Regions from separate parts of the Homo sapiens genome. Here all the other regions are linked to region 3. The links come from fine-mapping of genetic effects on gene expression. A gene starts in region 3. Each other region holds a variant in brackets. All regions are shown on one strand. Distances are from middle to middle. Region 1 overlaps CRBN (cereblon). Region 2 overlaps CRBN (cereblon). Region 3 holds the start of TRNT1 (tRNA nucleotidyl transferase 1). Region 4 overlaps CNTN4 (contactin 4). Region 5 holds the start of CRBN (cereblon). Region 6 overlaps TRNT1 (tRNA nucleotidyl transferase 1).

Region 1 (4,000 bases), 33 kb before region 3:
GAGTGAGGTTATTGGCTCACAGGGTAAATGCATTTATAATTCTGTCAGTTTTAAAAATAATTTTGAGGCCAGGCACAGTGGCTCACGCCTGTAATCCCAGCACTTTGGGAGGCTGAGGCGGGTGGATCACAAGGTGAGGAGTTCAAGACCAGCCTGGCCAAAATGGTGAAACCCCGTCTCTACTAAATATACAAAAATTAGCCGGGCATGGTGGCGGGTGCCTGTAATCCCAGCTACTTGGGACGCTGAGGCAGGAGAATCACTGGAACCCGGGAGGCGAGTTATTTTCAAAATACTTAAGGTGTTTGTACTTATTTTTATTGTTTCATCATGGCCTGACAGGCAATGTAGTATCAAACCTGATGTTTGCTGATCTGATAAGTGAAATATATTACATTGAAGGTTCAATTTGAATTTCTCTGAGAGCAAGGGTAAGCATTTTGTTGTAAGAGCAGTTTGTGTTTCCTTTCTGTAAAGTGTTTGCCCATTTTTCTACGGCTTGTTGATTTCTTGGGAGTTCCTTGTAAGCTTTATAGTCTCTGTAATTAATGAGTTCCAAACATTTTTCCTAGTTTGTCTTTTGTCTTTTGTTTTTGGTGTGGTGTGTCAAACAGAACTGTTTTTTTGTTGTTGTTCTTACATAGTTTAATTTTTAATGCTTCTGTATTCTAAATCATAGCCAAAAATGACGTTCCCATGCAAAGGAATGTCTCATGTTTTCTTTGGATACTTGCTGTGGTTTCATTACTTTTCCGTGGAAAGCTCTGATCCTTGTGCAGTTGATCCTGATATAAATTCCACTTTACTTTTTTCCAGATGGCTCCCTATTGTCCTACTACCACTTTTTGAATAGTCCATATTTTCTCCCATTGATTTGAGATGCCACCATTGTCACAGACCAAATTCATATGTTTATTTTACTTTTCTTCTCTTTTGGTCTGCTTGTGTGCCATCATCATATTGTTGTTAATGTTGGCACTTTATACTTTGTGTAAATAAAAATAGGGCTGGTAAGCCCCTCACTGCTTTTTTGTCAAGCTTTTCAGTGACTACCATTGATTAACATTTCCTTGTGAACTTGAGAATCTGTTTCACCTTGTTCCAGGATAATAATCGTAAGAACAGTAACATTTATTGACTATTTTTATATAAAGAAGAAAAGTCTTGAAATCTTAGGCTATGTATAGTCAGGTGCTTCCTCAGAAAGACTGGTCATTTCCCAGGCATACATCTTGTATGTACACTTGTGTATCTGCCATTAGCGTATAAGCCTCAGGAGTAGGAAAGAGCTTATCATTCCATCCCAGTTCTTATTACCATGTAGGAATTTGGTTCATGAAAGAAGGAAACAAAAACTGGTAACTTTTTAATTATTTATATAAATTATTTCTGTCATTTACATTGCTGATTGTAATAGGATTTAACACAATAAGTGACCACTTTTAGTCACTATATAAAGGAAGTCAGTGGTAGTGATTTACTATTTATGTTTAGCTTTTCACATTACTCTTTCCATTTTCATTGCACTTCAAAGACTCACTTAAATGGAGTTTCACATGTTTTGAACATTCTACGTTGTTGGGAGGCAAAGCCGAAGCCATAGTTATGAGGCTTAAGAATGGAGGACTGTGATAGATTACCTCCAGGTAACAGATTCGTTTTAAGGGCTTTTATGCCTGCTTTCAGTAGTAAATCCTGTTCCCAGAGTGAATACTACTCTGCTGGAGAATCCGTCATTGGTCACTTTTAAGTGCCTAAACTTTTTGGCTAGTATTAAAATTTTCTTGAGGTATAACCATTTTATGACATCAATCATGGTGTTGATATATTTAAAGAATGCCTATAAATTGCTAGAACTTATCATCCATTTTACCCAGATATAAGACAGGAGCCTTTCCTATTGTGCCAGAAAGCTAAATGGGACTCTTAAATTTGAGGATGTTGAAATGTCTTAAACTTTGGCAGTTGCTCTGTAAAAGCTAGCTAGCTAATCTGTTCTGGTAT[A/G]TGTCTCTTCAGTGTGTCTAATTGACTAACACACATCACAAATATTAAGGATGTATTATGCATATTTGAATCTGTCAGGATGCTCCAGATAAAGAATTTTAGAGGTCTTCTGACTCTGAAAAGAAGCTACCTGAAACTGTAGCTTGCTCATGGGCATGGTGGCAGAGTGAATGCCTGATCCAGTGCATTGCTCTTAATATGCTAGTGTGCCACATTTTATTCTCTTTATACTTGAAATTTACATATTATTTCAGATTCTTTTTCTTGACATGGGTGCCAAATGAAATTACACTTTTGTACTACACTTTTTTACATTTCTTTTGTATTACAAAAGTGACCATTCTGATATGTGAAGTATATTTTAATAACTGAATGAGGAGTGTGTCAGCGAAACTAAAACTTTCAGTTGGGTCTTTGTCATTTTGTAATTCTAAGAATATATAGCTTCTTCTCTCTAAAATATAAGCTCGACAGGGTATTGAATTTTGTTGGTTTTTCTTTCATTCACTGGCATAGCCTAAATGTATAAAAATAGCCTGACACATGTTAGGCACTGTATTAGTCTGGTCTCACGCTGCTAAGACGTACCCAAGACTGGGTAATTTATAAAGAAAAGAGTTTTATTTGACTCACAGTTCAGCATGGCTAGGGAAGCCTTAGGAAACTTACCATCATGGCAGAAGGGGAAGCAAACATGTTCTTCTTCACATGATGGCAGGAAGAAGTGCCAAGCAAAAGGGTCAAAACCGTCTTAATAAAACCATCAGATCTCGTGAGAACTCACTATCATGAGAAAACCATGGCAGTAACTGTCCCCATGATTCAGTTACCTCCCACCAGATCCCTCCCACGACACATGGGGATTATGGGAACTACAATTCAAGATGAGATTTGGGTGGGGACACGGCCAAACCCTATCAGGCACTCACAATATTTGTTGAATGAATGATGGTTAGAGTCAGACTCCCTGTATACAGATCCTAGCTCCTTCCTATTTACTGACTCTGTGACCTTGAGCAAGTTATACCATCCTTGTGTGCCTCTGTTTCCTTACTTTAGAATGGAGATAATAAACTACTAACCTTAGAGTATTCTTACAAGAAATGTGAAATTCTTGGCACAATACTAATGGTTGCCATTGCTGTTCCTGAAGATTCAGAGCTACTTGATGTGCTCTTGGTAGTATTTTCTTAAATTCTGTAACTGGACTGTGACAATAATCTTACCATTAGGTATTTAGTCTTAAAAGTGAGGGACAACTTATTGGAGAGTACCTGAAGGGTCTCATGGTCTGACTCCTCAGGCTTTAACCACTACCAGAGCACACAGTAGGAGGCCATCTCAGATCACCTTTGGCAGGGGTCCCCAAATCCTGGCCCACGAACCAGCACTGGTCTGTGGCCTGTTAGGAACCGGGACGCACAGCCGGTGGTGAGTGGTGAACGAGCAAGTGAAGCTGAGCGCCACCTCTTATCAGATCAGTGGCAGCATAGATTCTTATAGGAGCGCAAACCCTATTGTGAACTGCGCATGGGAGGGATCTAGACTGCGTGCTCCTTATGAGAATCTAATGATAAATGTAATGCACTTGAATCATTCCAAAACCATCCTCCACCCCATCTTTGGAAAAACTGTTTTCCACGAGACTGGTCCCTGGTGTCGAAAAGGTTGGGGACGGCTGATCTTTGCATAGTCTCAAATATAAGGATTATATTAAGCCAGAAATGTTTCTCATTAAGGAATCCTTTGTTTTGAGCTGTAGGTCGTGTTTTAGAACAAGTCTGTCCTCTTCCATATTGCAACTCCTAAAATATTTGAAAACCAGTGTGTCCACTTGAGAGACAGCTCTAAACTGAACATCTCTGGTAACAAGACATTCCCTTTGATAATAAAAGTTCCCATATTTGAACAGCATGGAATAGAATAACATTGTCTCATAGATTCTAGTCTTCTGTTAAAACCGCAGTTACTTTTGCACCAAACTAACATAGCTAGA
Region 2 (4,000 bases), 47 kb before region 3:
AAAAAAAATAGCTACTGACAGAGCCCAGCACGGACCCCAGTCCTCTGGCTCCCTCTTCACGGTGCTGTAGAGTTTACCAAATGCATGTGGTTTTAGAAGTACCCCTCTTTTGAAGAAGGAATTACATGTTTGAAAGGTTTTCATTCATCTTTTTTTTTTTCTTACAATATTCTACTTTTATAGCAGAGAGTGAGGAAGAAGATGAAATGGAAGTTGAAGACCAGGATAGTAAAGAAGCCAAAAAACCAAACATCATAAATTTTGACACCAGTCTGCCGACATCACATACAGTATGTAATTTAGTGACAGATCTAATATAATAGATATACATTTAAATGTAGATAAAAGTTCATAAAAACAAGTGACTGATATTTGTATTACTAGATATCAGAAATTGTGGATGAGGACATGGGCTATTTGCCAGTAGATAAACATTTAACTGTAATTTTTAAGAAGCTTAATACTATGTTGTGGTAGAATTGTTTGAGGAATTGTTGCTCTTTATACTCTTTCTGGTAATTGAGCTATTAAATACTTCTCTGTACTTCTAGGTACTAGAGTGTTATTGAACATACTAACATTTTATACTTACTGTTTGTGATATGTGGGCATAGAGATATTTCTTGGTAAAAATAATACTTTGTACTAAAAAAATTCTTGAATTTCTGTGTTTGTGATATATTCATAAAAGATTAGAAATTCTTCTAAGAGTTAAAGTTAGATTAAAAATTATATTTTAACATGGGATGCTTATATACCACGTTTATTAAGTGTTTGTAACCCCATTTGTATTTTTTTCTTTTTTTTTGAGACAGAGTGTTGCTCTGTCGCCCAAGCTCGAGTGAGTGCAGTGGCACAATCTCAGCTCACTGCAGCCTCCACCTTCCAGGTTCAAGTGATTCCCCTGCCTCAGCCTCCCGATTAGCTGGGATTACAGGTGTCCACCACCACACCTGGCTAATTTTTGTATTTTTAGTAGCAACAGGGTTCCACCATGTTGGCCAGGTTGGTCTTGAACTCCTGACCTCAGGTGATCCGCCTACCTCGGCCTCCCAAAGTGCTGGAATTACAGGTGTGAGCCACTGTGCCCGGCCTGTATTTCTTTTAATGTGATTTGCTCTTTAGTCTGTTGAGCTTACATTTTTATTACATATCGATCATGACACTATACCTATATATGTTTTTATATAGTACCTAGGTGCTGATATGGAAGAATTTCATGGCAGGACTTTGCACGATGACGACAGCTGTCAGGTGATTCCAGTTCTTCCACAAGTGATGATGATCCTGATTCCCGGACAGACATTACCTCTTCAGCTTTTTCACCCTCAAGAAGTCAGTATGGTGCGGAATTTAATTCAGAAAGATAGAACCTTTGCTGTTCTTGCATACAGGTAAAATATTAGAGTCCATTTGCTTAATACATTCCCTCTCATGGGTAATTGCAGTGGTCAGTGTTGAAGCCAAAGCAGGCTGTTATTTCGCATGTACAGGAGAGGTTGGGTAAGAATGTGAGGTTAGGAATTTGGTTAAGTAGAAGTTTGATAGTGCAAGTTGGAGTATTTTTGTTCATTTCATTACCATCTAACTCAGCTCTTCACCTTCATAC[A/G]CAATTTAACTTTCTGGTATTTGAAAAATTTTTAATCATTTATATTTGATGAAAAACATTTCTGGAATCTTAGTTTCAATAACTGTCTTCATTATAGAGAAGTAGTGCTTTTTTATTTTAACGTAAAGGATTACTTTTCCAAAAGAGTGGTCTTTTCTTTCCCTCTCTCTCAAAATTCATAGGTTGTACCACTTTAAATTGAAGCTGAATTTTAAGTATCCCATGGCAAATAAAGGAAATCTGCGGTAGAGGCAGGAAATACATACAGGAAGCTCCCACCCCAGTACAGTGCTGCCAGTAAGCAGCAGAAATGATAAGTCATTTGACAGAGTGAAAGAATGTTTGGTTTGGGAAATGAGTTTAAACCCCTGTAAGTTCTAAATTATTTTCAGTGACTAGAAATCTATTATTTTCCTAAAGTTCTCTAATTGTACTTCCTGAGTCCTTCTTGTATATCCCCCATGTGATTTAAAAATAAATAAAATTGGCCGGGCATGGTAGCTCACGCCTATACTCCCAGCACTTTGGGAGGCCGAGGCGGGTGGATCACCTGAGGTCGGGAGTTTGAGACCAGCCTGACCAACATGGTGAAACCCCGTCTCTACTAAAAATACAAAAATTAGCCAGGCGTGGTGGTATGTGCCTGTAATCCCAGCTACTCAGGCAGCTGGGGCAGGAGAATCACTTGAACCTGGGAGGCAGAGGCTGCAGCAAGCCGAGCTCATGCCACTGCTCTCTAGTCTGGGCAACGCAGCGAGACTCCATCTCAAACAAATAAATAAATAAATAAAATTATCCTAGCTTTGTAGTAAGGGTTGATTCTATAAATTGTTTACCTGTATTTATTGCTTTGCCTACTTTGCATATATTTAAAACTCAAATGTTCAAAATTCTTTCCTTTTAAAATTTTCTTGGAAGCAATGTACAGGAAAGGGAAGCACAGTTTGGAACAACAGCAGAGATATATGCCTATCGAGAAGAACAGGATTTTGGAATTGAGATAGTGAAAGTGAAAGCAATTGGAAGACAAAGGTTCAAAGTCCTTGAGCTAAGAACACAGTCAGATGGGTAAGAAATAACATATACCTTAATGCTCTTTGAATGTTTCCTAATGAAATAGTTTTCTTGTACTTTTTCTGTTCTACTGAGCCTTCATATTTTGTAACTTTTAACTAGTTGTTCTCTTTCCCTTCTAAGGTATAGCCCAGTGGTTTCCAACCTTGCTATGCATCAGAATCACCTGGGAAGCTTTTAAAACTATAGAAGCTTGAGTTCCAACCTCATCTCCCATCTCCAGAGAGTGATGAGGCTGCAGCATCTTTTAAAAATGATTTTCAGGTGATTCTAATGTCTCTCCAGGTTTGAGAACAATCATGTAAATCCAAAGGGAAGTGTTGTTTGGGATTTGGCTTCTTTAGGATTGAAGGCCTCTCGGAGCATAAGAGGATAGGGAGACCAGAGGCTTGTGAGCTGTTCGTGTGCTCACCAGGACAGCTGTGGTTTTTGTAGCATTGCTATGATGTTTGAAAGCCACACTGGTTACATCTGCCTACTGCTCCAGCTGAGCTATAAAAGCCATTTATATTTCGTGTCCCTCTCCAGTGTGAATTTTATATCACCCAGAAATGCTATTTACATAATAAATGATCAATAAATACTTGTAGTCTATGTGCCTTGTGACATTTAGAAATTCCCTGAGTATACTGTTTCAGCAGTAATTCATTTTGACAAAGCTGTCATGGCTGGGTTTTGCACAAATTCAAGGGATACACATTAAAACAGACACAAAAAAGTCCAGTTTATTTTATCCTCTTTTAAAAAGGAAACAAAGCATTTGCCTTGATCACTGGATATTACCTCTTAACGGAGTGCTTCTAAACTGTGGCATCACCCGTGAGGTCTCACAGATACACAGTCCTGGTACGCAATACAAGTACTAGTGAATTGGTTTCCAATTTATACCCACAGTTGAAAATCTCATCAGACCTCTGTGTTGCCCAGGTGGTATCTTCTGAACACATGCAAGTTCTGAGTATTTTGGGGTTTTTTTGGGCGGGGTGGGGGATTAAGACTGAAAAAACAATGTGAGCAGCATGAGGGCAGGAACGTTTTGTCTGTTTTGTTCACATGGTGGGCGTTCCTATATATTTTTGAATTATGAAAATATTGACATGTCAGGTAGCTCCTTGGAGCTAAAGAGAGCATAGAGGCATGTGAGATGGGATTGCCAGAGCTCTTAGGGTGTTTAGTTCTCCCCAGGTACTTTTCCAGAACATTCACTGTGCAAACTTTGATAGCCTTACCACATTGCACTGTCCTGACAGGATTTTATGTACGTCTCCCTCAATAGATAAGCTGCTTGAGAACAATGACCAAGACTTATTTATGTTT
Region 3 (4,694 bases):
TGATAAAATAACAAAGGAATTCTTTTTTTTTTTTTTTTTTTTTTTGAGATGGAGTCTCGCTCTGTCGCTCAGGCGGGAGTGCAGTGGCGCGATCTCAGCTCACTGCAACCCCTGCCTCCTGGGTTCAAGAGATTCTCCTGCCTCAGCATCCCAAGTAGCAGGGATTACAGGCGCACACCACCACATCCGGCTAATTTTTTATACTTCTGGGTAGAGACGGGGTTTTACCACGTTGGCCAGACTGCTCTCGAACTCCTGACCTCAAGTGATCTGCCCGCCTCAGCCTCCCAAAGTGCTGGGATTACAGGCGTGAGCCACTGAGCCCGGCCACAAAGGAATTCTTAACAGGACCCGTTTAGAATTAAACAAGTTTTACTGGGGATCTGAGGAAACTCCCCAGGCCTCCACGAACAAGTTTATTAGGGGTCTGAGGGAACTCCCCAAACCTCCATGATTTAGCAGGAGAGAATATAAGGGTAATCACCCCAGCACCTGGACCCATTTAGATTAAGTAAATTTACTCAGGCTCCAGAGGAAGGTCTTCAGGACTCAGATCTTATGGGTAAGAAGTTAATCACTTGTATCTTTAGATCAATGCACACTTACACATAAACATACAACTTACAAGGTATATAAGCTCTGGAAAGCTCTGTAATTCTGAGTCGGTCTGGGATATTTTCCACGCCTTCGCCCCGTACCTGGTTACAGAAATAAACTCCTTTCTTTCCTAGTTTATCTGCATCTCATTATTGGGCAGCGAGAATAAGCAGCCCAACCCTCGGTTTGGTGGTTTGGTCGGGGAGCATTACCACGACACTCGCATGCCACATGGTACTGTGATGACACTCTCCCCAGAGCAGGGCTTCAGGCAGTATGAGAGGGATGCGGGGTTCTAGAAACTCTAACCGAGTTTCTGGTCTCCAAAACTTGTCATGGTCACAGGTGGGTATCACCCTACTTCCCCACCTGCACTCGAGGATTCACGACCCTGGGATAGCTCCTAGACATTGTATTTTCCCATGAATTTAGTTTTGCTGCCCCCATTTTCCTGATTCTTTTCCTGCCATCTTGCAATCTCCTCTGATTTCTGGCACACCGCGGCCTTCCCTTCTACATATCACATCCTCGTTCTCCCCATACGGGGGTCCTGCCCATAAGGAGGCCGCAGCAGCTCTCGAGTGACCCCGGTGTAAACCTGCAGAGAAAAACCATTCCATTCCACGGAAGCGGGTGGAGGAGCCGCGCTTCCCGGCAGGCCACGTGGGGCGGAAAGACCCACTCAGTTTCCTCGCACCTCCGCCTCGACTTAGGAAAACGCTCTGGGGAACCCCAGCCCTGAAAAGGCGCGTCTCACCCCCCACGCCGGGTGCTGGCGACAAGGCCCAGTGAAAAAGCGTCTCGGGGCCGTCCGCGCGGAGGGGAAAGTGCTGAGGGAAGCCAAGGAATCCGCGCCTGCGGTCGCCGGAAACGTGGCGGGGACACGACCTCCGCGTCGGGGCTATTTTGCCCACTGCTGAGGAGGCCTCTCGCCACGTCCCGCTCCCGTCTTCCTCGAGGACCGGGCGCGGTGGCGCCTCTGGCCCACAGCAGGAAGGAAGGGGCAGCAACTCACGCCACCAACTCTGCCCCTCTGAGCGGCGCGCGCCCGCTTACCGGCCCCGCTGTTGCCGCAGCCGCCACCGCCGCCACGCGCACTTCCGGGCTGGTGAACGCGGTGACGTCACCAACGCACATGGGTTGGCGGCGAATGGGAAGTCGCGGCGGGGCGAGGGCGAGTGCGGGGGCGGGGCCCGGACCGAAGGGCTTCCGCCTCCCGTCGCTCCTCCCCACCGTGAGGCGAACCTCAGCCGGTTTCCCAGCCCCGCCGAGGCCCGCTGGGGCGAAGCGGAGCCCCGGGGGGCCCTGAGGAAACCGGCGCGGGTTCGTTTAATTACGCCCTTCTCGCCAGACCTCTGGCTGGCCCTGAGCTGCTCAGAAGCCCATCTGCGCGGCATGCCCGTGCGATCTGAGACAACTGGCAGCTGTCTTCCTTTGCAAAACGAGACTGTTAATAAAACCTACCCCAGGGTAGGACGGACTGTTCGGTAAATGTTAACTTATCCGTGTTTGACTATTCTCTCCTCTAATCTCTGCATAGGGTTAAGTCCACAGTTGACAGAGTCACGCGCATTCGAAATCTAAGCCCGCCGGTCCTATGAACTTACTGGGCATATTTTATTTTCTTACCTGGTTTGTGTAACCATTGGCCTCCTTGGCCCGGAGGCTTCCCATCTGTAACGTGGAGAACTTAGATTTGATCCAGTTCATTAATTCTTTCTAGAGCGGAAAAGAGCAAAGAGAGTGGCAAAGGAGTGGGAATACAGCCGTTGAGCCCTTAAAGTGCGAAAATGTGTAGTTTTTGTTTTGTTTTGTTTTTGAGACGGAGTTTCGCTCTTGTCGCCCAGGCTGGAGTGCGGTGGCGCGATCTGGGCTCGCTGCAACCTCCGCCTTCCGGTTTCAAGCGATGCTCCTGCCTCGGCCTCCCGAGTAGCTGGGATTACAGGTGTCTGCCACCACGCCCGGCTAATTTTTAGTAGAGACGGGGTTTTGCCGTGTTGGCCAACTGGTCTCGAACTCCTGACCTCGTGTTCCCCAGGCCTCGGCCCCCAAAAGTGCCGGGATTACTTTTGCCGGGATTCGGCCACTGCGCCCGGCCGAAAATGTGTAGTCTTTTAAGTGTAACTTTACATCACTTAGCTTTCCCTAAAATTTTCCTAGAAAAATGCTTGTGCATGTTATTTCTGTTCTTTTGCCCTCCCCACATGCCTACCTGTTCTTCCCAAACTTTTCAGCCCCACTCTCTGTAGACTTCCTAAAACGTAAAAAGTAAGATGTGCAATTACCACACCTCTTCAAGGTGTTGAATATCCTGTTTTTGGAAGCACAGGACTGGCTTTCCAAATGGACATTCAGAGGCACAGCATTGATATCATCCGGTGCAAGGATTTTCTGTCTCTCTCTCTCTTTGGGGCAAGGAAAGCCCCAAATCATCCTTTCAGGCTTGTCTGCTATTTCTCACCACCATGACCCTAGACAAACTGGACCAAAGCCTCCATTGCTGTACCCACCTAGAATAGATTCTCCAAATCACCACCTATGAAGGCAACGCTAATACAACTATTATGATGACTTACTTCGTGCCAGTTACTGTGCTGGGCACCCTCAACAATTTCTGGCCTTGTAAATATATAGTTTATATATGCAGGTGTATATACAGTTGTCCTTCCGTATCCATGGGGTATTGGTTCCAGAACATCACCCCAGCCAGTGTTCAAGTTCTTTACATAAAATGGCATAATATTTACATATAGACTATACACATTCTGTAGTACAAATCATTTCTAGATTACTTATAATACCTGATATAAATGCTGTGTAAACAGTTGTTATGCTATATCGCTTCTTTGTGTTTTTTAATTGCTATTTAATTTTTTTTTTTTTTTTTGAGATGGAGTTTCACTCTGGCGCCCAGGCTGGAGTGCAGTGGCACGATCTCAGCTCACTGCAACCTCTGCTTTCCAGGTTCAAGCGATTCTCCTGCCTCATCCTCCCAAGTAGCTGGGATTACAGGCACCCGCCTCCACGCCCGGCTAATTTTTGTATTTTTAGTAGAGACGGGGTTTCACCATGTTGGCCAGGCTGGTCTTGAACTGCTGACCTCAGGTGACCCACCCACCTAGGCCTCCCGAAGTGCTGGGATTACAGACGTGCGCCATGGTGCCCCAGCCTTATTTAATATTTTGACCTGTGGCTGGTTGAATCCACTGATGGAGAACCCATGGCCATGGAAGGTCAACTGGAGAGAGAGAGAGAGAGAGAGAGAGGAGAAAGAGAGAGAGTAAGAGAATTCCTCCTGTACTGGCCAAGACAATAAAACAAAAATAGGGGTATTACTACAGATCATGTAGATATATATGAGGAGGTATTATAAACAATTTTATGCCAATTAATTTGACAATGTAGATGCAACGCACCAATTCTATAAAAAAGACAATTTATCAGAACTGAAATAGGGTAGAATTTAAAAATCTGAATAGCTTTTCATTTTTAAAGAAATTGAATTGTTGTTCAACAGACTTCTCACAAAGATAATTCCAGGCCCAGATGGTTTCAGTGGTCAAATTTATCAAACGCATAAGGAAGGAAGAACTCCAGTCTTGTGCAAAGTTTGTTTAGAAAATAGAGGAGGAAACAGTTTTCCTCTCATTTTGAGGCCAGCATAACCCGCATAACATAAAATCAACACTACAAAAAAATTAATATACAGCTTAATATACCACATGACCATAGAAACAAAAACAACTTTAATAAAATGTTAGGAAATTGAATCCAACAGTATATAGAAAGATAATACATCATGATCAATTTGGGTTTGTCCCCAGTGCAAGGAATGCAAGTTGTATTTAATGATCTAAAACCAATCAACGTAATTCACCATATTAACTGAAAAAGAAAAACTGTTGTCATCACAATAGATGCAGAAAGACCACTTAAAATTCAATCCCTACTCATAAAAACTGCCAAAAAAATTAGAAGGGACTTCCTCAATATAGTAAAGGTCATTCATGAAAAATCCATAGCCAATATCAGACTTAGTGGTAATATATTGAACACTCTCCCCCTTATATCAGGAAGAAGGCAAGGATGCCTCATCT
Region 4 (5,608 bases), 620 kb after region 3:
GCTTGATTCAACAAAGAGCAATGGAACAGAAAATCAAATGCAGCTTGCAAAGTCACATTCACATGGAGCTGTAGGGAGAAAGAGGGGGGTAAAACCTGGTACTTACAGACTGTAAAGTAAAATGTCCCAGTTTCGCTTTACATGTTACAGCAAATCAAACAGAGATTTCAGCTCTCAGCAAGTCCCTGCTTCCACTACACTGATCATCCACGCAGAACAGGCCCTTATGGATTGCTTAGGCAGCTGGGAGATAATGGGACCATATTCTCAGCTGGGACTAGAGATGCTGAACTGCTCTCCGCTGCGCGCTGCATGGCTCTCCGCCAGCATTCATCAAGGAGGACCCAGCTTCCTGGCTGTGTTCCCCAAAGGATCGACATAATTAGCACACGAATCAAAGACGCACACTGGGAGAATCACACACATCTCTAACTGGCTCTCCTCGCATCGAACCTGATTAGGAAATCAAGTTTGTTCTCCGATCAAATGTGTTCAACCTTTCAAAAATACACAGAGGCTCACACAGCTGTTGATAGATTTCGGGGGAGGGATGGAGATTAAGGCTTCTTTCCCAATGGGCAATTTATGTAATTCCTCAACTACAGAATATAATTACACTGGTTGTTTGGTACATAGGGTGGGTTTGCCCTATGATTCGGTTTGTCTGTTAGGGATTCTCAGCAGCTCCCAAGAAGGTTGTGGGTAGCAGCATCATCTCTTCTACGGATTTTATGCGACATACACGTGTATGTTCTTTTCAGAGTCAGTCTTTGGGGACACTGGCTGAACTAAAGCTGGTGTTTATGGGGGTGTTTCATGTTCCCCAAGTCGTGCCTCTTCATTGAATACTAGAAGTCCAGGGCATTCAAAGCAAAAGGGTTTGGCATGGCACACTTGGGACATCTAGTATTCTAAAAGGAACTGGTGATATGGATTCCATTTGCATAACTGTAAGAACACTCCTCCTTACTCTGTCTGCATCGTGATGCAGTCAGGGGTTATAAACCAGTAGCCTGTGGACATGCTTGGTCTGGCAAGAGAGAGATTTGAGAATCTGAATGTGAACATTTTTAAACAGAACATGTGTTCTGCGCTTTATCAAAACCTTGCCACACACGCTTTTGCCCAGACATGCTACCTGCTGGCCCCGGAAGACATTTGTTTATGTAAATTTGACCTTAGTTAAGCAAGTCTGGGTTATGGATATAAAACATTCCATTTTAGAAAAAGGGAGACTCAGCGCCTGTGTCACTCATAAAAAGGCTGTGATTAAGGCACCCGTGTGATCATTTAAAGTCCACCACACGCAAAGCAGCCAGTAGTTAAGGAGCCTGTATGATAAAGAAGGGAGAACATTGAGGGAGTCAGAAATCTGAGTTCTAATCCTCATCTTGCTGCAAAAACAAACAAATAAACAACAAAAAAAAACCCCAAACAAACAAACAGGTGATCTACACCTTTGTGAGTCTTAGTTTTCTTTTCTGTACAATAAGGGCTTTGCTGCAGACCTCTGAGAACGCTTACAATGTGACATTCTATTCTTGTCCTAAGATCTAGAAAATAGACCTTCACTAGAAAGGTGCTTACACCTCGTAATAGCACTGGGGTGACGGGAGTGAAATAAAGTCATGCTTTTTTGACTGGCAAAAATTTGGGGATGGAGGGTCTTTGTTACCTTTAGGGGCCAGTGATCAACTGGCTACTAACCAGCTGTTTCAGAAAACTTGAAACATCATGCTCAGTAAGTGTGAGTAAATTTTAAATGTGTGGGGAAAAAAGACAGCTTGGGCAGGAAATGGTCTTATTTAGTTGTACACAAACTGTGTCTACCTGATAGTAAAACACCTGGGTGAAGAACCAAAAATCCAATCAGAATGTTTTGTCTTCATGGTGCCAATCAGAAGAGCTCTGGGATTTTGTGGGGAAAGAGTCTTTATATTTAATGTGGATTTCTCCATCTTACTTTCTTTCATCCCTACTATCCAAAGGTAGAGAAAGGTGAGGCTTTCTTCACATGGTTAGTTATGTTATCTTTTGTGAAAAAATGTGTATCATTGAGGCCAAGACCACCCAAACTGTGTTAGCGTTTTGATTGTCTTAGGGAATAAAAGCAAAATGGATCAACACTTTCGTGATGCCTTACTCAATAGCTAGAAAAGTATTCTCTCCCAAAGGATACATGATTGGGTAAAAGATGTCCACTACCAAACCCTTCTGTGCCCATTATCAACTCAAGTATCCCCAAAACAGATCCATGCCCTCGAATAGATTTATTACCAATAGTTAATGGTAATGATATGCAAAGTGGGGTACAAAGAAACAAGGCAATTATACATTTTTGAAATTTTACTAAACTTTTGAGTAATTTTGTGTTGGTTCAACATGTTTTTTAAGTACTTTCAATCCAATTTCTGTAAGGTAACCAGTTTCTTTTTTTCTTCAGATATTATTACATTTGGCATAACTTGTAAAATGACTGGCACGAATTTCATGTTGGTTATTTTTTATCAGGCTCATTATTATTGAGACTTTAGCAGATCTACTCCACGCAGCTCGTGTGAGGTTCTGACAAAAATAGGTTAATTAAATAGCAATTGTGCACCTCAGTCATATTAGCAAACATATTGCTGAAGCAAATGAAGAGAGGAGAAATTAAAATACCAAAGTGTTTATTCAGTGGTACAGCCGAAATAGTTTAATTGGTTTTAAGTTCTATTCAATCCCTGTTTGCCTGGTAATTACTTTGATTAATCTTTGATTATGATATGTAATAGATTCACTTTGCCATCATGTGATTTGCACTTGTTTTTAATGGTAGGTGTTAATTACTAACTAAAAAATTTCCAACTTCCATCAATTCTTCATACATTTCTCCCTAGAGATATACCACTTAAAATATGAAGTGTTTATAATAAAAATCTAAATCTGGGAAATGCCTGATTTTTTTTCATTAAAGGGCATAGCCAACATTAAAGTCCAAATAAATATAACAAAGAGAAGGAAAAAAGAGACCAACATGACTAGTTACCACAAACAAAAGAAATGGTCTTCTCAAAGACAGTAGAACCTGCTATTTTACCTCAGAATATATTTTAGAAGCCAAAATGTATACAGAGATTGTTTTAGACTTGGTATTGAAACAGCAAGAAACGGCATCTCTTTGGAACTGTGAAGAGTCTGCAATTTTAACAACACTCTTGTCAAGGCTAATAAGAACCTGGGGGATGGGGCTCCTGAGGTCTCTTTCTGGCCATTACACAAGATTCACCAAG[C/T]TAAATACAGCTCAAAACCTCAGCAAATCTAGGGGCAGAATGAAAGTTATGGGAACAATTTCCCAACAGTTTGAGGCTTAATCAATATTTTTAAATGCTTTAGAATCTTCAGCAATAAGTCACCAGATGTGCATACAACTGCTCATTGCTTCTTCTTGAAAGTGTTTTCCTATTCCTTGCATCTCTCACTAAAAGTCAGAGTCAAAAGCTGAGACAACTGTGACATTTCTCCAGCTGGGAACAAAATTTCAAAAGGGATGGTTCAGAAATTGCTGCCCAGGGCACCTACTGGAATGATAATCTATGCAGCAATGATTGAACCTTCTTTTCCAACCAAAAGCAATGGAGCCAGTAATAAAATATTCAAGAAGTAAGCCAAAAGTATGGACGCACATAAGAAAATATGTGGCCATATTAATTTTCCATGAGATAATCAGATTCTAATAACAATGACCCAGAGACCAGGGTCATGAAATTAAAACAGTCTGTGGAGAAAATAGCCCATTTAAATAATTATGTCAATGTGACATCAAATTGACCTATGAGCTAGATAAAAGGGTGCAATATGCCTTGATATTCATCTACCACTAACTGCTCAGAAATTTGTAGTCACTATTAGCAAAAAATTTGAGGGGGTGTGTGTGTGGAGAGGGAGAAGAAAAGAGAGAGAGAACAAATTGTTTTATGAGTGTTACTTCTCATTTAATTTTTGGGGGAGAACTGACTTATCCTTATTTTAATGGCTAAAAAAAAAAAGCCAATTTTCTTTTTTCTTTCTTTCTTTTTTTTTTTTTTTTGAGACAAAGTCTCTCACTGTGGCCCAGACTGGAGTGCAGTGGTGCAATCTCGGCTCACTGCAACCTCCGCCTCCTGGGTTCAAGTGATTCTCCTGCCTCAGCCTCCCGAGTAGCTGGGATTACAGGCGCCTGCCACTATGCCTGGCTAATTTTTTGTATTTTTAGTAGAGACGGGGTTTCACTATGTTGGCCAGGTTGGTCTTGAACTCCTGATCTTGTGATCTGCCCACAAGATCACCTCCCAGAGTGATCGGGCCTACCAGAGTGCTGGGATTACAGTCATGAGCCACCGCACCCAGCCAACACAAGCCAATTTTCTTAACATCCAAGAAGAGAACAAAAATCCTTTTCCTCAGAAGATTCTGATTTTCCTTCCAACAAAGACAGTTTAAAAAAAACCCTGATTTTTGGTTGTTACCACTTGGGGTAGGGGTGCTACTGGCTGTTATCATCCTACCAAGCACAGGACAGCCCCCCACAGCAACGAATTATCTGGCTCAATATGTTAACCTCAATATGTTTAAGATACCCTGGCCCAAGGGAAGCATGATGGGGTTCTTATAGTTGGAATACCGAAGAACTGAGTGCTGAGATTAAAACCCGACTAAGTATAAATGTTGGTGCTCTACATATAGCTGCAGTAGCTGTACTAAACTGTTTTGCCTTGGAAGTTATTTTAGACGTTTCAGTATGCTTTCACAAAAATTACCACATTCAGCACAATGAGCTAGTTCAAAAGCCAAGAATGTCCTATAATTCCAAGTCTATCAATGCAAAACCGAACATGAGCCTCAGAACACATGACTGGAGGCATGATCGCTAAATAAAAACGTCAAGGCCCTCTCTCCTCACTAGATTATGCCTCAGAAAACCAAGTATCACTACAAAAAAAAATCTCATTCCAGCCTCTCTTGCACTCCCTCTCCCGTCTCCCACCTCGAAATGCACACAACTCATAGGCAAAGTGAGCTCCATGTACTTCCAAATATCTTTTTTCTTTCTATCTCTATGATTGTCCCTAAATAGATGGGCAACATTTTGCATGTTCCTCTATCAGGATTCTGATCTTACTCCTGAAATAGATACAGTTTTAATACAGAGTTGGGATGCAATGCAAACATGCTTCAATTCATGAACTTTCATTAGGAAATCCGTTGTTAGACTGCTTTTGTTTACTCATTCAACAAATATTTATTGAGCACCTACTAACTCACCATCAATTTAAATTATTGGAGGAAGAAATTGAATCTCTCAGCATCTTCTTCCCTTATAGACTTCTATGCATTTATATGGTATCCCCTACATCATTCTGTCTGGCTCAGAAAAACTTTAGTGCAGTTCTCAGCATCCACTAAGGTCATTATTATTTATAATCGGCTTTTTCACTAACGTGGTGCTCCACGGACTCTTCGGCTCTGGTACTGAGCTCTTTTGTCGGCTCCAGGGCGTGTAGGCGCTAGGTAGATAGCAGAGGCTTTTCATTTTATTCTTTGGCATCACTTCCATCAACTATGAAAAGCCTTCTTTAGGCTTTTACAT
Region 5 (4,000 bases), 53 kb before region 3:
ACAAATAGGCGACACTATTTGGTTCGTTCTTATTTTGCAAATGGGCGAATTGAGGCCCGCAGCCATAAGTGATTTGACGAAGACCACAGACTGATTCGGAGACAGGAGGCAAAATGACACAGGAATGATTCACAAGCCTCTGTCACAAGGGAGTTTTCTGCTTGTAACTTATCAGGGAGGCAAATTTTCTGAAATCATTTTTTCAAATCTCAGATCCATGACTTTTCTGTTGAGCAATGCTGCTGCTTCCTCTCAGCCTCCGCCCACCACCACCACTACCATGTTTAGATGTTGTATTTCATTTAAGGATTTTTCAGTTTTCCTTCCTCGCTGAAAAAGTGATACTGAAATACACTACGAAAACTTTTGTCCTCCCTCCAAAACAAATATCTTACCAGTCACAACTCCACCATTATAACAGAATTATCTTCATTTTTTACATAGTCTTTCTTTTTTGCCACAGTGACTTGTTTTTACATAGCTGAAGTCATAATGAGTAGGCTAGTTTATATTCAGACAATTTTATTTACCAATTATAAGGCGTTTTCCATTCTGTGCAATCATCATTTCAAGTATGTTTCTGATTAATACTTGTTAATTTTGGAATGTAATGTACATATATGGAAACTACTGAAGTTATTGAAGTTGTATGTACATACATTGAAACTACTGAAGAAAATCAGCAATAATTCAACCACCCTCGGAATAACTGATGGATTTCCCCAGCCTTCACATATATGCTTCTTATTTTAAGAATTGAAACTAATGCTGCATGAACAGGTTTCTATTTGCTCCCTGCCCCCTTCGTTTAAAAACAAGGTGGAGACTAAAGGCTCTCAGCCTCAGTTTCTCCATATGCAAAATATCAGGATTAAATAAGTCATGCTAAGGGCTGGAACAAAGTGAGGGCTCTGCAGCGTGTACGCCGGGCACTCAGCCGTGGATGGCAGGGGACGGCGTTCTGTCCCCGGGACGGAGCGCAGGCCTGTAATTGTCCCTCCCGCCTAGGCCATCACTTTCAGGCTTGGGTACGCGCCGCCGTCTGCTCCCCTGGGGCCGCCAGGGGGCGCTGTGGCCCCGGTGCGCGGCAGCCGCGCGACACGGGCCCTCCCTCGGAGTCTTCGGCACCGCCCTGTCCCAGCCTCCTTTGCGGGTAAACAGACATGGCCGGCGAAGGAGATCAGCAGGACGCTGCGCACAACATGGGCAACCACCTGCCGCTCCTGCCTGGTAACCGCCCGGAGTAGTTCCCTGTAGTCGGGAGTGGGGCGAGGCTCGGAGCCGCTAGCGGTGCAGCTGGGCCTGGGAGGCGGGCGTGGGGGCGCCAAGCCTGGCGAGCCAGCCCAGCAGGGCCGCACCGGAAAGCTGCTTCACGTCGGCCCTCGGCCAGCGATGGAGTCGCGGCGCTTTCTTCGCTGCTCTGTTGCCCCGAGCCGTGAGCCAGGGTGTCGGGGGGAGCATTTGCTATTAAGAACAGGAAACCCATCCTCTCCATCCTCCTTGTGTTCTGAGTTTAGCTCCTAGGAAATGCTCTGAAACTAGAGGACCGGGTCAGATTCACAGCGGTTACTTTTGCTGGTCTCCTTCCTTTTAATAAGAGTGACAGCTAACATGTACTAAGCACTTACCATGTTACGAGCCGTGCAGTTAACGCTTTGCATGCATGTCGCCTTTTAATCCTTCCCACATCAGTTTTCAGTTTCCGATTTGATAAGCGAGTATTGGATTTGCAGATTAGTTCAATGACTTGCCCAAGGTCACACAGCAGAGTCAGGATTCCAACCCGGGTGTGTCTGTCATTATATCTCTAAACCACTTCTCTGTTTTGTTTTTCTTACTATCGGTCTTTCTCAGGCATGTACGATTATGCTTAATCAGAGATACTTAGTTTTTCTTTTTCCTGTATGTTGTGTGAAATGTTTAGACTTTGGCCTTGTGTTGAAATACTGAACAAAAAAAAAAATGCATGGAATATTGCATAAACTTTTCATGGAATGCCTTTCAAGAGATGCTTTCCAAAAGGTGTATCATCCAAACTTGAAAGTATTACTTGAGTCCCTTCGTTATATGACAAGTATGTTAGGTGTTGTGGAGATGAAACGAGAGGTAATACACAATCTGATAATTGAGGTTTACTGTCTAGGCGGGGCTGCTGAGAATATAACTAAACGTAAATCAACTGCAGAGGCGGTTGATTTAGGGCCAGATAAATGAATGCTGTTGTGGCTCTTCAGAGGCAGAGGTTGTTTAAGGGTCAGAGGATTTGGGAAAAAGCCTTTCAGGTAGATCAGGAGACATCTAAAAGCACAT[A/G]TTTAGGATATGGTTGTGGGACATAAGGCCTAGGAGGTATATTGGGTCTAAGTTGCTGGGAAACTGGCATCTCTTGCCAGTGGGTTTGGGTTTTTCCTGTGGATTGCCAAGAAACAGTTTTAGGTTTCAGGTAATTGCCTAAAGAAATCTATGCTTGGAAGATTAATTTGTCCACTGGTAGCAGCATGGATTAAAAGAGGAAGAGACTGAGTGCGTGCCCACCATATAGGAGAGAACTTTTCTGTAAAAATAAACCATAGTCACTGGTTGTTCTCGAAGCCATTCTAGCTGAGTTGACACAAGGGTAAGTGTGCCAGCCTTTGATGGAAAGCTGAGCTATTTTTTCAGAGACATTAGCCCTACTCTCTGTGCCAAATCCGGTGTTTCAGGGAGAATGGTGAATAGAAGAGGGAGGATACTGATCTTCTGTCGACATTCACATCGTGCCTCTGCATGAGATGAGTCATCAGACTTCACTGATAGCTCTGAACAGTCAGCGTGGTTTTTTGTTTGTTTTTTTTTTGTTTGTTTTGTTTTGTTTTTTGTTTTTCAGAAAAGCGTCGGGAGAGGGCCCAGAGATGGTGTAGATATAGCAATAATGCCTCTCCAAATTACGTAAATTTTATTTGTAGGGAAACACTGGGCTTTCCATAATTCCATGTAGTACGAGTTGTTCTGAAGAGTAAATCCTCTAAGTTCCAACAAAAAGCTTTATATTTGAGATGTGAAGAGTTTATCCTAGGCAAATGAAACATTAATAAACATAACTGAGTAGGGGAAAGTGGTTTTTAGCCATATTTATGAAAAAAAGGTTACTAAAGAAATTATTTAGAGACTAGGAGTCAGAACAGTTAAAATGTAAATTTTTAACAATATTAATTCCAGCCTTTGAGCTAATAGTTTATCTTTTAAACTTTCTGTAGTAGAGCAATAAAGTGGGTTGTGCTGCATGCCAAGTGATAGCCATACTGTCAGAGTTGGAAATACAAACAATTTGATGCAGAATATTTTTGTCATCCATTTAGATAGCTCTTTTTTTATCTCAGTGAAACTTACATGTTCCAAGGAAAATTTGTATGAAGTGTTAGACCATTGGCTATTTACATATAAGTTGAAGTAATTCTGTTTTTGACAAAGTTTTATATCTAGGAAGTTGTAATAATAAATAGAAAGTCCAAGGCAGTTACCATATTGAAAATCATTTTTATTTTCTGTCAGGGGCCTGGCTAGAGGTGGTTTGACTTAAATAATGATATGCAAAGGAAAACAAATGATTATTTCGTAATGACATTTTATCGATTTAGAAGTTTATTTGGGGCATTTAAAAATACATGAACTGGGAGGTGAGAAATGAGATTCAGTAATTCTTTATTGTTAGTCTAGGCCAGGGTCTCCCAACCTCAGCACTGGACTTTTGGGCTGGAGAATTCTTTGGGTGGGATTGTCTCGTGCATTGTAGGATATTTAGCTGCATCCCTGGCCTCTACCCACTAGATGCCAGTAGGACTCCCTTAGTTATTGCAACCAATATCCCCTGAGGGGCAAAATCACCTGTGGTTGAGAGTCACTGGTCTAGGATAGGAAATTTACTCATAGTTTGTATGAAAAGGACAGACTCACAGTTAGTACAATAGCATATGTATTGTGTAGCGTTTTCTAATTTTCTTTGCTGTCATTGGTAACATCTGGT
Region 6 (4,064 bases), 22 kb before region 3:
TTAAGTATACTTTAGGAAACAAGCATGAACGGCAGTCTAGAATACCAGAAACATCTACTTGGGTAGCTTGGTGCCATTATCCTGTGGAATCTGATATGTCTGGTAGCATGTCATTGATGGGACATGAAGACATCTTTGGAAATGATGAGATTATTTCCTGTGTTAAAAAAAAAAAAAATCTTAAATTCCTACAATGTGAAACTGAAACTAATAATTTGATCCTGATGTATGGGACAGCGTATCTGTACCAGTGCTCTAAATAACAAAAGCTAGGGTGACAAGTACATGTTCCTTTTGGAAAGAAGCAAGGCAATGTATATTAATTATTCTAAAAGGGCTTTGTTCCTTTCCATTTTCTTTAACTTCTCTGAGATACTGATTTGTAAATTTTGAAAATTAGTTAAAATATGCAGTTTTTTGAGCCCACGAATAGTTGTCATTTCCTTTATGTGCCTGTTAGTAAAAAGTAGTATTGTGTATTTGCTCAGTATCTGAACTATAAGCCCATTTATACTGTTCCATACAAAAGCTATTTTTCAAAAATTAATTTGAACCAAAACTACTACTATAGGGAAAAGATGCCAAAACATGTCCCCTCACCCAGACTAAACTTGATACTGTATTATTTTGTTCAATGTAAATTGAAGAAAATCTGTAAGTAAGTAAACCTTAAGTGTGAAACTAAACATGTTCTTTGTTCAAATAATGTAAAATATCTACTCATAATTTTAAAGTTCTAAAAAGGCTGCTTTGCCACCTACCTCTTTGCTTATATTCAAGGGTTTAGTGGGTCCTTCCTTCCACATTTGTATGATAACTTTCGTTTTATTGGTAGTCCTTTGCTACTTTAAAACTAATCAGGTTAAATGTTTACTCAAATGTAGTAATAGTATGAGGCCAAAATACATGCCTTGAAGGTGGAGTGAAATCAGTTGAGTGTCACACTGCATATTTATGTAAATAGAGTAAATGAAAATTCAAGAATACTTCCAATCAGGATATGCCCCTGCCTTATTTTTTCTAAGGTCTACTTTTACTACTTTAATAATTTTGGGTTTGTGTGACTTCACTGGTCTGGTTTGTTCCTATAGTTCTTACACTGCACTAAAACTTACTTACTCCAGGAAGTTCCTGTCAGTAGCATAGTACCTCTCTGTAGGCTGAACTCTAAACCAGTTGCAATGAGTTACCTTGTCCCTCTGAAAAGTTAAAATTTCAGTATGTCCCATACCGTTTACTAGCAAATAAAATTTTCTGATCTGTAAAAACACACATATACTATACTACTACTGAAAATGGTTTTACACATGACAAAACCAGACCTGATAGCTAAATCTGCATACTTTCTATACAGAAATAGTATGTATTATATGACGTTGGGTCTAAATCTGTATTTTGGCAGTACTTAAATATTTTAAGTAAGTATTTCAAAGTATTATTTTATAATGCATCTAATTACTGACCTGTATGCAGTCATTTCTGAGGCTTTCTTGCATCATAGCCCCTGTGACATTTCCTCTTAGAAATATTACACTCTACAAAATTGTTTTATCAAGGTCCAAAATTACTATTTGCTCATAGAGTACAAAGATGTTATGACTGGCTACACAGAAAGGAAATAAATTATGAAATGTCAGTATAGCAGCTGAAATTATAGCAGCTGAAATAAACAGTTTGTATTATACATTTTATTTACCTGATGAAAGCATTTAGGACTCAAATCTTTAGAGAATATATAATAATAGCCATATCCTTTTAATTAATAAAATAACACTTTAAAGACAGGCATATTACCATTGTATATGACACCTAATACACATTGTCAGATACCACATAAACATATTTATCTTCCAATACCAATGTTTGTTTTATTAAAACAATAATTAATTAATAGGCTCAATAGTGACCCTCAAGTTAATCCCATGACTTCCCCAGGCTCTGCATGCATAAAGAAATCATTGTGACAGAAAAATATCAACCACATACTGAAGCATAGCTTGCTAGAACAAATCCTGTACATATGAATGCCAGCAACTGGGGACACATTTAGTATTCACATTTTATGCAAACTTACTTGGTCAATTATTTCTTTTTTAAGCACAGGTTTATTTTGGAATTCAGATAAGAACTGACACATCAT[A/G]GACAGTCATTGTTAAGGTAACCCTGTTATTTCAATTGCAAACAAACAATAAACGTTTTTTCTTCAAGACAGTTACCACTTTTTAAGATCTTAGTACTACCCTATGCAAAAACAGTTTTTTTTAAAAGCCTGAACAGGTTAAGATAGATAATAGCCAACTATGTTTTCTCAGGTGAAACTATTCCAAAAGAACTGTACATTTCAGTGATATAAATCAGATCCAGAAAGGTGGATCTCTGTTTAGTTCTTGAAATATATAATTCACAAAATAAGACCCTTGTTGTTCTACAGAGGTCCCCTAAACTGTCTTTTATTCTGGTGTAGTCTCTAAAACCTCATTAAGAGGGAGGGGAGAAAATTTAGTCTTACCAGAAATGCTCTGCTTTTTAGTAGCCATCAGTTTTAGGTCTTCTTTATGTAACTCAGAAGTTCATCTTTTTCCATTTGGTAACCACTTTTTTTCCACTGTTCTCGCAACTGTTGTAATAGAGCCCCAATTTCTTTTCCTGAAGAAATGCCCACTTTTCTGATGTCATGGCCACTTACAGGAAATGGAGGAATGGACCACTGCTGCATTTCCTTTAGGAGACAGTGCTCTCCTTGGTACTTCAGTAGTTCACATACACGAGTAGTTGCATCAGGTTCCCTAGACTACGTGTCAAAATCAAACATTTAGTTTCGTCACACATGAAAACATACACTTACAATCTTATCCTAAAATTTAAATACTCAACATAAATTTTTTCATTTAAAATAAGTAAAATTCACAGATTTGTAGATCTTAGTTTTAATAAATTAATTCTAAATTCGTGACGATACTTCATATTTCTGACCAAGCCTAGTATATACTTACATCTATAATGAAGTCTTGATAGGGTTTCAATGGGTCTGAACTATCTGTTGCTTTAATTAAATCTTTCCTATTTTTAACTATAAATAAGCCAAGGTTTTTCTCCTCTTTTGCGATCTTCAACCTCAAATCCAATTTTGTGACATCATCTTGTACTTTGAATAATGAGGCCAAAAGAGTCACTGGCTTTGGTGAAAAACCATCAACATTTTTACTGACTTTGTCAAATTCTTCTAAACTTGCATTAGCAGGTAAACCTGTAGGGACAAAAGCATTTTTCACCTGTTTTTAGTGGGGATAAAAAACCACTCATATCCTAAACCTTGCCACCATTTTAGTATCCAGAAATGCTTTGTCACTAGGATACATTATATAGGTTCAGTCTGATGTTCCAACTTAAAGGCGAACCACTAATATATTGTTATTCTCTCCCCTGTCACCTTCAAAACCTCTAAAATGTTCTTGTTTCCATTAAAGCTACATCAAGAGTTCCAGGGGTAGTGGTGACAGTGGTGTCAGACTCACAAGGCATACTCTTTCTAATCACAAATTCCTGACTTTACACTGATACAAGATCCACCCCCCATTCAGTAATGTTACTGAAATTTGAAATATGCCCAAGCTTACCGAAGTGTGATAAACCATATAATCCCACTATTCTCTGTGAAAATGAATTACAACGTTTACTGAACAATTTCTGTGTACAAGTCACTCTTCTAAAAGAGCTTTACATGTATTAACTCACTGAATCCTTTTAGCTTTCCTATTAGATAGAGGCTACATTACTTTTAAACCGCTTTTTTGGGTTAGAAACTAACCCAAGTTGCAAAGACTAGATAAGGGGCTGAGCTTCCTTCAAACCTAGGTCTGACTAGAGACTACTCTACAAGCACCACAAGCTGTCTTTGAGCTCTTCCCTACTCACGACAAAACTTACCCCATAACCCAAACTTTGTCTTATTTTAAAATACTCCATTTCTCCAAGAATTCTTCAACCAAATGAGTCAAACATTTTTTCCTTATGAAATTTGAAACCAGATATTTCACTGCCAAAAATTCAAACACTTTATAACT

Evidence for each region. PIP is the estimated chance that this variant, and not a neighbour inherited with it, causes the effect.
Region 1: its variant is the best candidate, but not a certain one, in a credible set for the expression of TRNT1 in testis (GTEx, PIP 0.72).
Region 2: its variant is the best candidate, but not a certain one, in a credible set for the expression of TRNT1 in activated CD8 T cells (Schmiedel 2018, PIP 0.51).
Region 4: its variant is the best candidate, but not a certain one, in a credible set for the expression of TRNT1 in monocytes (TOPMed, PIP 0.71).
Region 5: its variant is the best candidate, but not a certain one, in a credible set for the expression of TRNT1 in whole blood (TOPMed, PIP 0.52).
Region 6: its variant is the best candidate, but not a certain one, in a credible set for the expression of TRNT1 in blood mononuclear cells (TOPMed, PIP 0.71).

Annotation. Positions count from the first base shown.
Region 1 is chr3:3,157,753-3,161,752 of GRCh38, reverse strand. The region is part of intron 5 of CRBN (cereblon); the gene reads left to right. Among named protein-coding and RNA genes, the nearest start is that of CRBN, 20 kb to the left of the region's middle. The variant A/G (reference allele first, on the strand shown) is at 2,005.
Region 2 is chr3:3,171,453-3,175,452 of GRCh38, reverse strand. CRBN (cereblon) reads left to right here. Exons shown (of 11, transcript NM_016302.4): 2 at 184-290; 3 at 1,192-1,394; 4 at 2,528-2,677. Among named protein-coding and RNA genes, the nearest start is that of CRBN, 6.2 kb to the left of the region's middle. The variant A/G (reference allele first, on the strand shown) is at 1,610.
Region 3 is chr3:3,123,950-3,128,643 of GRCh38, reverse strand. It overlaps TRNT1 (tRNA nucleotidyl transferase 1), which reads right to left and starts at 1,704. Exons shown (of 8, transcript NM_182916.3): 1 at 1,654-1,704. LOC124909339 (a long non-coding RNA gene) reads left to right here and starts at 1,813. Exons shown (of 2, transcript XR_007095786.1): 1 at 1,813-2,084. RefSeq lists enhancers at 1,141-1,220, 643-1,373 and a silencer at 1,581-2,000.
Region 4 is chr3:2,506,196-2,511,803 of GRCh38, reverse strand. All of the region lies in intron 3 of CNTN4 (contactin 4), which reads right to left. Among named protein-coding and RNA genes, the nearest start is that of CNTN4-AS2, 360 kb to the right of the region's middle. The variant C/T (reference allele first, on the strand shown) is at 3,273.
Region 5 is chr3:3,176,851-3,180,850 of GRCh38, reverse strand. CRBN (cereblon) reads left to right here and starts at 1,160. Exons shown (of 11, transcript NM_016302.4): 1 at 1,160-1,230. The coding sequence starts at 1,164. RefSeq lists a silencer at 927-1,096. The variant A/G (reference allele first, on the strand shown) is at 2,311.
Region 6 is chr3:3,146,633-3,150,696 of GRCh38, reverse strand. It overlaps TRNT1 (tRNA nucleotidyl transferase 1), which reads right to left. Exons shown (of 8, transcript NM_182916.3): 7 at 2,994-3,247; 8 at 1,674-2,791. The coding sequence ends at 2,543. It overlaps CRBN (cereblon), which reads left to right. Exons shown (of 11, transcript NM_016302.4): 11 at 1-686. Among named protein-coding and RNA genes, the nearest start is that of TRNT1, 22 kb to the right of the region's middle. The variant A/G (reference allele first, on the strand shown) is at 2,141.